Regions from separate parts of the Homo sapiens genome. Here region 2 is linked to region 1. Evidence: fine-mapped expression QTL. A gene starts in region 1. The other region holds a variant in brackets. All regions are shown on one strand. Distances are from middle to middle. Region 1 holds the start of CYP27C1 (cytochrome P450 family 27 subfamily C member 1). Region 2 has its middle 50 kb from the start of CYP27C1.

The links. PIP is the estimated chance that this variant, and not a neighbour inherited with it, causes the effect.
Region 2: its variant is the best candidate, but not a certain one, in a credible set for the expression of CYP27C1 in coronary artery (GTEx, PIP 0.86).

The regions. Positions count from the first base shown.
Region 1 is chr2:127,217,922-127,223,292 of GRCh38, forward strand. It overlaps CYP27C1 (cytochrome P450 family 27 subfamily C member 1), which reads right to left and starts at 2,378. Exons shown (of 9, transcript NM_001367502.1): 1 at 2,068-2,378. The coding sequence starts at 2,349.
Region 2 is chr2:127,167,870-127,173,240 of GRCh38, forward strand. It overlaps the pseudogene NIFKP9. Among named protein-coding and RNA genes, the nearest start is that of CYP27C1, 50 kb to the right of the region's middle. RefSeq lists an enhancer at 3,077-3,628. The variant T/C (reference allele first, on the strand shown) is at 2,741.

The DNA.
Region 1 (5,371 bases):
GAGAGTCCCCACAAGTACCATATTTGAGGGTTGGGGTAGTGCCACCTGGAGAGTAAAGGGAAAGAACTTTTTCCTTTATTTCTTTTACTCTCCAGGTCCTGTGTGCGCTTGGTGAGAAGGCAGCAAGTGAGTCAGTTGTGACTCTCTGCTCCGTGCCCCAGGGCCCTGGGTGTGGTGAAGGAAGCTGTCTGAGCAGTGGGCAGGAGGGGCTGAGCTCAGGGTGAGGGCTGGCGGCAGGGGCGGGTGAATGGAAAATACCCATCTGAACTGCCACACATCCTGACTGGATACAGGCTTTAACACGGTCCGTCTCAAAGAAACCTGTGCCCATGGAACAAACTCTGGGTGAGGTATGAGGATAAAAGCAGATGGCAGTAGGGGCGGATAAAAGAAAAATTAAATTACACTTCAGAAAGCAGGCTGTATTGAACCCATCAACAGCAAATAACAAAACACTTTTTACTGTATTTGAAAGTTGCCATCCTGATATCTTATCAGATCCTACAAAGAAAATCATTTTTGAGCCCTCTAAGCATTGGGGTGGGGGTGGCGGTTTGGAACTGTATAGGGTTGGCGTGGCGGACTTGAGGAGGGACGGTTGGGACTTCCTGGCATTAAAATTAAATTAAATTTTAATTCCCGGCCGAATTAAAATTGCTCCTCGCACGCCCGTTTTTCCATTAATGAGGGTTGGGGCTTCTCCCTCACGTTCATTGACTGAATGGCTGATGGAACGAATGAATGACTGAAGCCCAGGTGGGTAGTTAGAAGAGGCTTCGATGGAGAAGGGTCTCGAAAGACCGGAACTCTGGGCAGAAGGACAGGCCTGGGTGGGAGGAGAAGGGGGCGTTCTCGGAAGACACCAAAAGCCCCCATACCAGAAATAACAGTGCGTGCTGGGCCGGGCACCCGGGGAGGCGGACGATGGGCGAAGGCATCGGAGGGCGCCGCCGCGGCTCGGGTGCAGTGCCCCTGCCACGAAGGGCGCAACGGAGGTGGGCGTGGGAAGGACAGCACTCAGGCTCCAAGTGGGAAGCGTGCGGAATTCGCCGGCCCCAACGCCCTAGCGGGTGGCTGGGACCCCTGGGTTCCTCCCACGTCCCTGCCTCCAGTCCCGGCGCGAACTCCAGGTGTCGCCCCCAACTCCGGCTTAGAGCCTACGGCACCCCGAGCCTCCGAGCCTCCGTCCCCTCTTCCCCCGCCATTACAAAATACAAAAAGGACTAGAAATGAATACACACGGTCTCGGCCACCTAAGGACACCGAGCTCCGCAGAGCCTAGAGGAGCTAGGGAACCTAGCGCTCCCCTCGGGCCGGCCCCAGGCAGCAGCCCCCCTCAGCCCCAACTCCGCGGGTCCCGCCAGCTCTCCACTCCCAGGCCCCGGCGGCGTCCACCAGGCGCCCGCTGCCCCTCCCCAAGTCTCCTCCTCCGGGACCTCAGCCCTGGTGCCCTCCCCGCAGTCCCATTCCTGGTTTCCCTTCGCGGCGCCCCCTCCCCAGGTTCCCCAACCAGGCAATCCCTGCCTGGGTCCCTCCCCGGGACCAGTCCCTGGAGACCCTGCCCGCCGCCTCTCTCGGGCTACCACTCTCCGAAACTCCATCCCTGACTCCCCTCCCCGCTACCTCCTCCCCAGGGGTCCCGGCTGGGGCCCCTCCAGGGGACCCCTCCCTGCCGCCACCTCCCGAGACACCCATTTCCCCCGCCTCTTCCCAGCCGTTCCTTTCTGGCCCCGTTCCTCAGCTCCCTCTGCCTGCTGCCCCTCTCCGGGGTCCGCTTCCCGAAGACCCCTCCCCAACGCCCCCGCCCCGCTCCCGGTTCCTGCCTCCTCCACCCCGGATCGCCTTTCCGGCGTCCTCTCCCCAGCGCCCCTTCCTGCGAACCTTAACCGGACAACCCCAGTCCAGCTCCCCCAACCCACCGCGGCGCCCAGTGCCCGGGGATCCCTGCCCGCCGCCCCTCCCTGGGACTCCCCAACCCCGCGCCCCTCCCTGGCGCCCTCCCGCCCGCGCCGTCAGCCTTCTGGGCAGCAGCCCGGGCTGGCTCCCTCCCGGGGCGGCGCGCGCTACCTGGATCTCGTGGATGCGGCTGAAGCCGTCCCTGCAGAAGAACTCCGCCAGGTTGGCGAGGGTCCTCGGCCCCGGCATGGCGGCGAGGCTCCGGGGACCCTCGGCTCGGCCCCCTCCCGGCGGCGACCCCGGCCGCCCGGCGCCTTTGTCCTCGGCCCGCGCCCCCGCCGGGAGCCGTGCGCCCGCGGGTTGAGGCCGCCGCGGGGCCCCGCCGCCCAGGAGCCCACCCCGCTCGGGCGCCGGCCGCAGCCCGGCTCTCAGGATCCGCGCCAGCAGGGCCATGGCGCTCGTCTGCATCGGCTTGTTTGTCTGAGCAACTTTGTTTCGGGGGCTGCTCTTTGGGTTGCTGTTTCCTGCGTCTTAACTTGTCAGAGCAGTGCTTCTCCGTACTCCTGCCGCCGGGGCGTCAGTTTACACAGACCCTTATTAAAGGCTCCCTCCCCTGGGGCTGGGGAAAAGGCTGTGATTAGACTGCAAGAGAATGAGGCTATTATTATTTCTTCACATCATATTAATTCACACTTAAGCGTTCCTTGAAACCACCAAGTTTTAAGGTCAACCCCACTTCCAACCATGGCCAAAAAAAGAAAAGTCTACGGGGATCTTGTAAATTATTACCGTCCTTCGAAATGACTACTGAAGGTATACTGAAGAAATCTTTGGTCTTTTTTGCATTTTAGAAGCAGTTCTTTATGGTTTCAACTTAAATTATTGTAACTCAACTTTCAAAGGGGGGGAAAAAAGTGAGACGATTTTGCATGTAGTTCCTACTGTTGTAAAATGACCACATTATTATCTTGCCACAAGCTTTCTTAAAGACAATCACAGTCGTTTACGATGGCTTTCCTCGGGCTCATCGCTTTTATTCCGCACACCATTGGAAGCAGTGAGGACTAGGTGAGGGTGAGCGACTTTGAGCATGGGGCGTTTATCTGGTCCCTCACAAGGACGGGTCCTGTTGCACAAGGCTTGGGGAAGAGAAGCCACCTCCATGCCGAGGCGAGGAGAGGAGTCCGCCAACCTAGACTCAGAGCCCAGTGCCTGGCTGCACAAAGAAGTGGCCGCACAGGGAGGGATGGAGCACGGGAAAGGCCAGAGGTGTGCCATGTGGTTTCAAGGAAGGGAACTTTTTCCTAGTCAGTAGTTAAACTGCTCGCTGAGTTACATTATTTGAAGATTTCATACCGTTGGTACTCATGCATCTAAACGTAAAAAATAAGATTTTTTTCCGTTTACAACGTATTGTTACTAAGCATTTTTTTTTTTTTTTTTTTTTTTTTTGAGACAGTCTCGCTCTGTCACCAAAGCTGGAGTGTAATGGCGCGATTTCGGCTCAGCAACCTCCGCCCCCAGGGTCCTAGCGATCCTCTTACCTCAGCCTCCCGAGTAGCTGGGATTACTGACGCTGTAATCTTGAAAAAAAAAAAATGCTGCCGCGCCCGGCCAACATTTATTTTTTAAGAGCAGAGAGGGAGGTTCAGGCCTGTAGTCCCAGAACTTTGAGAGGCCGAGGTGGACGGATTACTTGAGTTCAGGAGTTCGAGACCAGCCTGGCCAACATGGTGAAACCCCATCTCTACTAAAAATATAAAAAATTAGCCAGGCGTGGTGGCACGCGCCTGTAATCCCAGCTACTCGGGAGGCTAAGGCAGGAGAATCGTTTGAACCCAGGAAGTGGAGGTTGCAGTGAGCTGATCTCGCCATTGCACTCCAGCCTGGGTGACAGCAAGACTCCATCTCAACAACAACAACAAAAAAGAGCAGGCCGGGCGCGGTGGCTCACGCCTGTAATCCCAGCACTTTGGGAGGCCGAGGCAGGCGGATCACGAGGTCAGGAGATCGAGACCATCCTGGCTAACACGGTGAAACCCCGTCTCTACTAAAAGTACAAAAAAATTAGCCTGGCGTGGTGGTGGGCGCCTGTAGTCCCAGCTACTCGGGAGGCTGAGGCAGGAGAATGGCGTGAACCCGGGAGGTGGAGCTTGCAGTGAGCCGAGATCTTGCCACTGCACTGCAGCCTGGGCGACAGAGCGAGACTCCGTCAAAAAAAAAAAAAAAAAGAGCAGAGAGGGGTCTGGCAGTGTTGCCCAGGCTGGAGTGCAGTGGCTATACACAGGCACTATCACTGGGCACTACACCTTCCAACTTCTGGGCACTACACCTTCCAACTTCTGGGCTCAAGCCATCTCCAACCTCAGCCTCCCAAGGAGCTGGGAGTACGGGCACATGCCACCATGCCCAGATAAAAATATTTTATTTTATTTTTTAGACACTGGGTCTCACTATGTTGCCCAGGCTGCCCTTGAACTCCTGGGCTCAAGCGATCCTCCCCCTGAGTAACTGGCATTACAGGTGCAGGCCACCGGCTCAGCTAAATATTTTATTTTTAATGAGTAGTTTATACCTTTACAACTCTGTAAAATCTACACTGCATTTGAATAATTGAAGTATCACGTAAGTGACGCAAAGAAGGCTATAGTTACTCAACTTACAGAATTTGATTAATAACACCAGGTGCGGTGGCTCACGCCTGTAATCCCAACAATTTTGGAGGCCACAGCAGGAGGATTGCTTCAGCCCAGGAGTTCAAGACCAGCCTGGGCAACATAGCAAGACCTGGATACTACAAAAAATAAAAATAAAAAAATTAGCTGGGTGTGGTGGTGTGTGCCTATAGTCCCAGCTACTCAGGAGGCTGAGGCAGGAGGATTGCTTGAGCCCAGAAAGTCAAGACTTCAGTGAGCCATTATCATGCCACTGTGCTCCAGCCTGGGCAACAGAGCAAGACCCTGTCTGTAAAAAAAGAAAAGAATTTGATTAATAAGTACTCAGCAACTCTTATTTATTTATTTATTGAGACGGAGTCTGGCTCTGTCGCCCAGGCAGGAGTGCAGTGGAGCAATCTTGGCTCACTGCAAGCTCCGCCTCCCAGGTTCACGCCATTCTCCTGCCTCAGCCTCTGGAGTAGCTGTGACTACAGGCACCCGCCACCACGCCCGGCTAATCTTTTGTATTTTTAGTAGAGACAGGGTTTCACTGTGTTAGCCAGGATGGTCTCGATCTCCTGACCTCGTGATCCGCCTGCCTCAGCCTCCCAAAGTGCTGGGATTACAGGCTTGAGCCACTGCACTCGGCCCTTGCAACTCTTAATTATAAGGCATGATAGCTGCAAAGTACTCAGTAAGACTTTGATCCTGCCTTTAGGAGGCCATAACCTATTTGAAGAATAAAACAGGTACACAAATACAAGCCAGATTACTATAAGTGTCACAAAACTGGACTGAATATGATTGGAATTTGTGGC
Region 2 (5,371 bases), 50 kb before region 1:
TGGCACAATCTTGGTTCACTGCAACCTCCGCTTCCCGGGTTCAAGCGATTCTCCTACCTCAGTCTACCGAGTAGCTCGGACTACAGGTGTGTGCCACCAAGCCCGGCTAATTTTTGTATTTTTAGTAGAGACGGGGTTTCACCATATTGGCCAGGCTGGTCTTGAACTCCTGACCTCATGATCCACCCACCTCGGCCTCCCAAAGTGCTGGGATTACAGGCATGAGCCACTGCACCTGGCCTAATATGTCTTTAAAAGACAGGGTCTCCCTCTGTTGCCCAGGCTGCAGTGCAATGGTGCGATCCTAGCTCACTGCAGTCTCAAACTCCTGGATTCAGCAATCCTCCCACCTCAGCCTCCTCAGTAGCTAGGACCCCAGTCACTCACCACCACACCCAGCTACAGGCAGTTTAATTTTTACCAGAATGAGTGGCTAGGCATGGTGGGTCACGCCTGTAATCCCAACACTGTGGGAGGCTGAGGCAGGTGGATCACAAAGTCAGGAGTTCAAGACCAGCCTGGCCAACATGGTGAAACCCCATTTCTACTAGCAATACAAAAAATTAGCCAGGCATGGTGGCGGGTGTCTGTAATCACAGCTACTCGGGAGGCTGAGGCAGGAGAATTGCTTGAACCCGGGAGGTGGAGGCTGCAGTGAGCCGAGACCGGGCCACTGCACTCCAGCCTGGGCAACAGAGCAAGATGCCGTCTCAAAACAAATAAATAAATAAATAATTAAAAAATAATTTTTACTAGAATGCTTCTGTTGTGGACAACCAACCTGAGACCCAGTGGTGGGCGTGGCCAACCTGCTGATGAGTGACACAGCTGGCGCTAGCAGTGAGCCTCCTGACTCCCACCCTGTTAAGCCACGCGGCTTTCAGGTGGTTCCTTATCTCCAGTCACATCACCAATTTTGATCCATAGCCAAAGCTATGTTGTCTAATGCAAGGTTAGAAAACCTTTCTGGGCCAGGCACGGTGGCTCATGCCTGTAATCCCAGCACTTTGGGAGGCCGAGGCGGGCAGATCACGAGGTCAGGAGATGGAGACCATCCTGGCTAACACAGTGAAACCCCATCTCTACTAAAAATATGAAAAATTAGCCAAGTGTGGTGGCGGGCGCCTGTAGTCCCAGCTACTGGGGAGGTTGAGGCAGGAGAATGGCGTGAACCTGGGAGGCAGAGCTTGCAGTGAGCCAAGATCGCGCCACTGCGCTCCAGCCTGGGCGACAGAGAGAGAATCAGTCTCAAAAAAAAAGAAAAAAAAAAAAGAAAACCTTTCTGGTTATTACCACCAATCACTGGTAACATTTATGGAGTCCATGACACACATTGTGTTGAGCTCTTGTGCACAATCTCATATCTTCACAGCAACCCTGAGAGTGGTTAGCATCCCCATTTTACAGAATGGAAAACTGAGGCTCATGATGCTTAAGTGTTACTTACCCTTACTTATCAGAGTCGAGAATCCAAACCTGAGCCTTTGAACTCCAAAACCCACATACTTGTTACAAAGATAGGTGACAGAACCCACTTCGTGCTAGGGTGCCGAGTGGCGAATTCGAGATGTGCATTTCAAAGAGTGCTGGCCCAGTCCCCGTGCCTCCCGCTGGGAAGGTGTCCGGTCATGCTGGAGCATGAGAATGAGCAGTGTTTCATGGATTTGCCGGGAGATACTGAGGATTTGTTTTTGTTTCATCTCAACTCTCACATATAAACAATATGAGAATATTATCTTCGTCCTTCACAGAGCATTATACTATCTCCGGAGTATTATGAATAATACAGCTGTCAGTGAAATCAAATAAGTGGATAAGGGGTAAAGAACCGGGCACTATCATATTTCCTCTCCACAATGGGGTGTTGCTGTTGAATCAATCCCAGCCATAGTCATCACGTATTGATTACATTTAACCAAAATTCCAGGAATATGTGAACTTCAGCTGCATGTTCAAATTAAGATATTTTCTTTTCCCATAGCAGGCTCTGAGCTATATGATTTTGGAACTGGAATTACAAGATGACATAGTGTCATTTGATAATTAGGCTAATGATACTACCTGCTTAAAAATGTACACAATTTAAATGAACGGCATTTAGGAGTCTGATGATTGGTCTATTTCTTGTGGATTTTCTGTTGCGGACTGCAACTCACATAGGCTATGCATTTGTGGAGTTTGAGTCTGAGGGTGTTTGCAGCATAGTTGCTGAAACAATGAACAACCGCCTTTGTGGTGAGAGACTCTTGGAGTGTAAGTGCTCCTGTCTTACTGCGGGGTTGCCTGGGTGCCTGCTGCTGGTGGGTGACTGTGGTGGGAAGGGCGGCTTGCCTAGCTGCTTGGACATGCCACTTCATCTCTGGGATGACTCTTACAGAATGGTGCAAGGATTTCAGTGTATGCTGCAGGCAGATTCTAATTGGAATTTTAAAATCTCCCAGCCTGAGAGCTGTTTTTACCCTAAATGGAGCTGGACAAGTTACCTTGGGGTCCCATGGGAGGAGCAGCTAACCCATCCTTATGGGCTGTGAAAGGCTTCTCTGAGGAAGTAGCATTGACATTAAAACCTGGAGACTAAACAGGAGTGAGCCAGGTGAAGGGGACAGGAGTGAAGACAGACCATTCCTGGCTGAGGGACAGTGAATGCCTAACCAGAGGTGCCTAACCATTTGGCTGTGAGGTAATGTGAGGAAAAGTACCAAGAGATGAGGGAGCAGGAAGAGGCTTCAGGTCAGGTTAC[T/C]GAAGGCCTTCTAAGTCAGCGAGTTCAGAATTTATCCTGAGGGCACTGGGGATAGAATCAAAGGTCAGGAATCGCATTGCAAAATCCATCTAAATGGCAATGGCTGCAGCTCTTCCACGTGAGATAAGCCAGGGGGAGTGGAGGAGTGACAGCACCAGATGAGTAGTTCATCCTGCAGAAAGGAGCCAGTGCAGCCCCCTACCCTGCAGTCCATAAGGTGCAGACAGCATCCCTGTCCAGATCCTGCTGCCCTTGGGAGGCAAAGCGAAGTTTCTGGCCTCCCTGTGCCCATGGCGGCCTGTGGCCATCTTAGGTACCCAAGTTCACAGGCATCTGCCCAAACAGCTGGCGAGGCTGCCCAGGTGGCATCTCTCTGTCCACTTCCCATAGCTGTGAGAGAAGCTGACTGCCTAGCTGAGGTCATGGGTTCATTCTCACATTAAAAGCATGGCTCTTGCCAAGAGGAAATGAGCTGGGTAGGTGCCCTGAAAATTGTCGACCGCACGTACCAGGTCGGTGCTGTGCTGTGTTGGACTTGAGAAAAATAGCTGAAAGGGCTCTGAATGTAGAGTTGGGGATTGTTGCTCCTGTCTAACAGCACTGACGAACTCCACTAGGGCAGAACTGGCTCATCGAATAAGGGAGGAGACCACCCCTCATATTGTCTTATGCCCAATTTCTGCCTCCAAAGAAAGAAGAAGTAAAAACTAAAAGGCAGAAATGAAATCCACAGGCAGACAGCCCTGCGCCACACCCTGGGCCTGGTAGTTAAAGATCGACCCCTGACCTAATCAGTTATGTTATCTATAGATTACAGACGTTGTATGGAAAGGCACTGTGAAAATCCCTGTCCTGTTCTGTTCCATTCTTACCTGTGTATGCAGCCCTCAGTCACGTACCCCCTGCTTGTTCAATCAATCACGACCCTCTCACGTGGACCCCCTTAGAGTTGTAAGCCCTTAAGAGGGACAGGAATTGCTCACTTGGGGAGCTCAGTTTTTGAGACGTGAGTCTTGCCTATGCTCCCGGCCGAATAAAGCCCTTCCTTCTTTAATTCGGTGTCTGAGGGGTTTTGTCTGCAGCTCGTCCTGCTACACTATCACTCTGACATGAGATCAACTGTGGCATCTTGATTATGCTGTGGGAAATGGCACCAGGAGATTCTAAAGTGAACGTTAAAATCCCTCCCCTACCATTTGGTTGAAACCTTTTTTTTTTTTTTTTTTTTTTTTTTTGGAAATGGAGTTTCGCTCTTGTTGCCCAGGCTAGAGTGCAATGGCACTACCTCAGCTCACTGCAACCTCCGCCTCTTGGGTTCAAGCAATTCTCCTGCCTCAGCCTCCCGAGTAGCTGGGATTACATGCATGAGCCACCATGCCTGGCTAATTTTTGTATTTTTAGTAGAGATGGGGTTTCTCCATATTGGTGAGGCTGGCCTTGAACTCCTGACCTCAGGTGATCCACCCGCCTCGGCCTCCCAAAGTGCTGGGATTACAGGCGTGAGCCACTGTGCCCAGCCTCAAAACTTTTTATCTTTTCAAAATACAGGTCGGTTTCTGCCATATGAAAAAGCATATGATGAAGTTTTTAAAAGCTGGAATGTTCCATTTTCAGAGACACCTGCGTATCCAGCAGTAGAAAGACATAACAAAAAAAATATGTATACAAAAGTAAAAGTGAAGAACCAATTGCTTAAAAAAAAAAATTACAGCCCAGCATAGTGGTTCATGTCTGTAATCCCAGCACTTTGGGAGGCCAAAGGGGGAAGATAGCTTGAGTCTAGGAGTTCAAGGCTAGCCTGGGCAATACAGTGAGACTCATCTCTACAAACAATAGAAAAAGTGAGCCAGGCATGGTGGCGCACACCTGGAGTCCGAACTACTCGGGAGTCTGAGGTGAGAGGATGGCTTGAGCCCGGGAAGTTGAGGCTGCAGTGAACCATGATCACGCCACTGCACTCCAGCCTGGACGACAGAGCCAGACTCTGTCTCAAAGAAAAAAAAATTATTCAGAAGGAAAATAGCTTTAAAAAAGGAACATATTGCAGTTTTCCATCTTTAGTATACACTGCTTCATCAACTCTTTGTTGTTTGGAGGGATGATGGGAGAGTTGTAGCTCACTGGTTGCAATGTAGTGTTGGGGGTCCCAGGCCACACTTTGGAATTGTTCTTGAAAACTAGTATGACCTAAACGTGCACTCCTGCACACGAAGGGTGCCCACGCAGCTTGCCATTCCTTTCAAAGGACCAGGCCTCACCATCCGCCAAACATGCATTTACTAACTTGTGGACACTTACTAATGTGGTCCTAAGCTATCTCTTCACCCGTATGAATTTGCATTTTTTTGATGACCAGCAAGATGTAACTACACAGTATGCAGTGACTGCCAGTCTGAGAAGAATGAGACTTCCTCAACGTCTATACTGGTTCGAAAATTGACAGTGAAGTAAAAAGAGGAAAAAAAAGCAAAAGACAAATGACTGAGTTTCTCACAGTTCCACTGGGAAGAATTAGAGTTCCTGAGAGACGGTCCTCCACATTCAGATGAAATCATGCCTGCCCATATGAATCACCTGCAAAGCACAGCAAAGTAAAGCTCAAGTCATGACGTGAATACAAGCTAGGCCTCG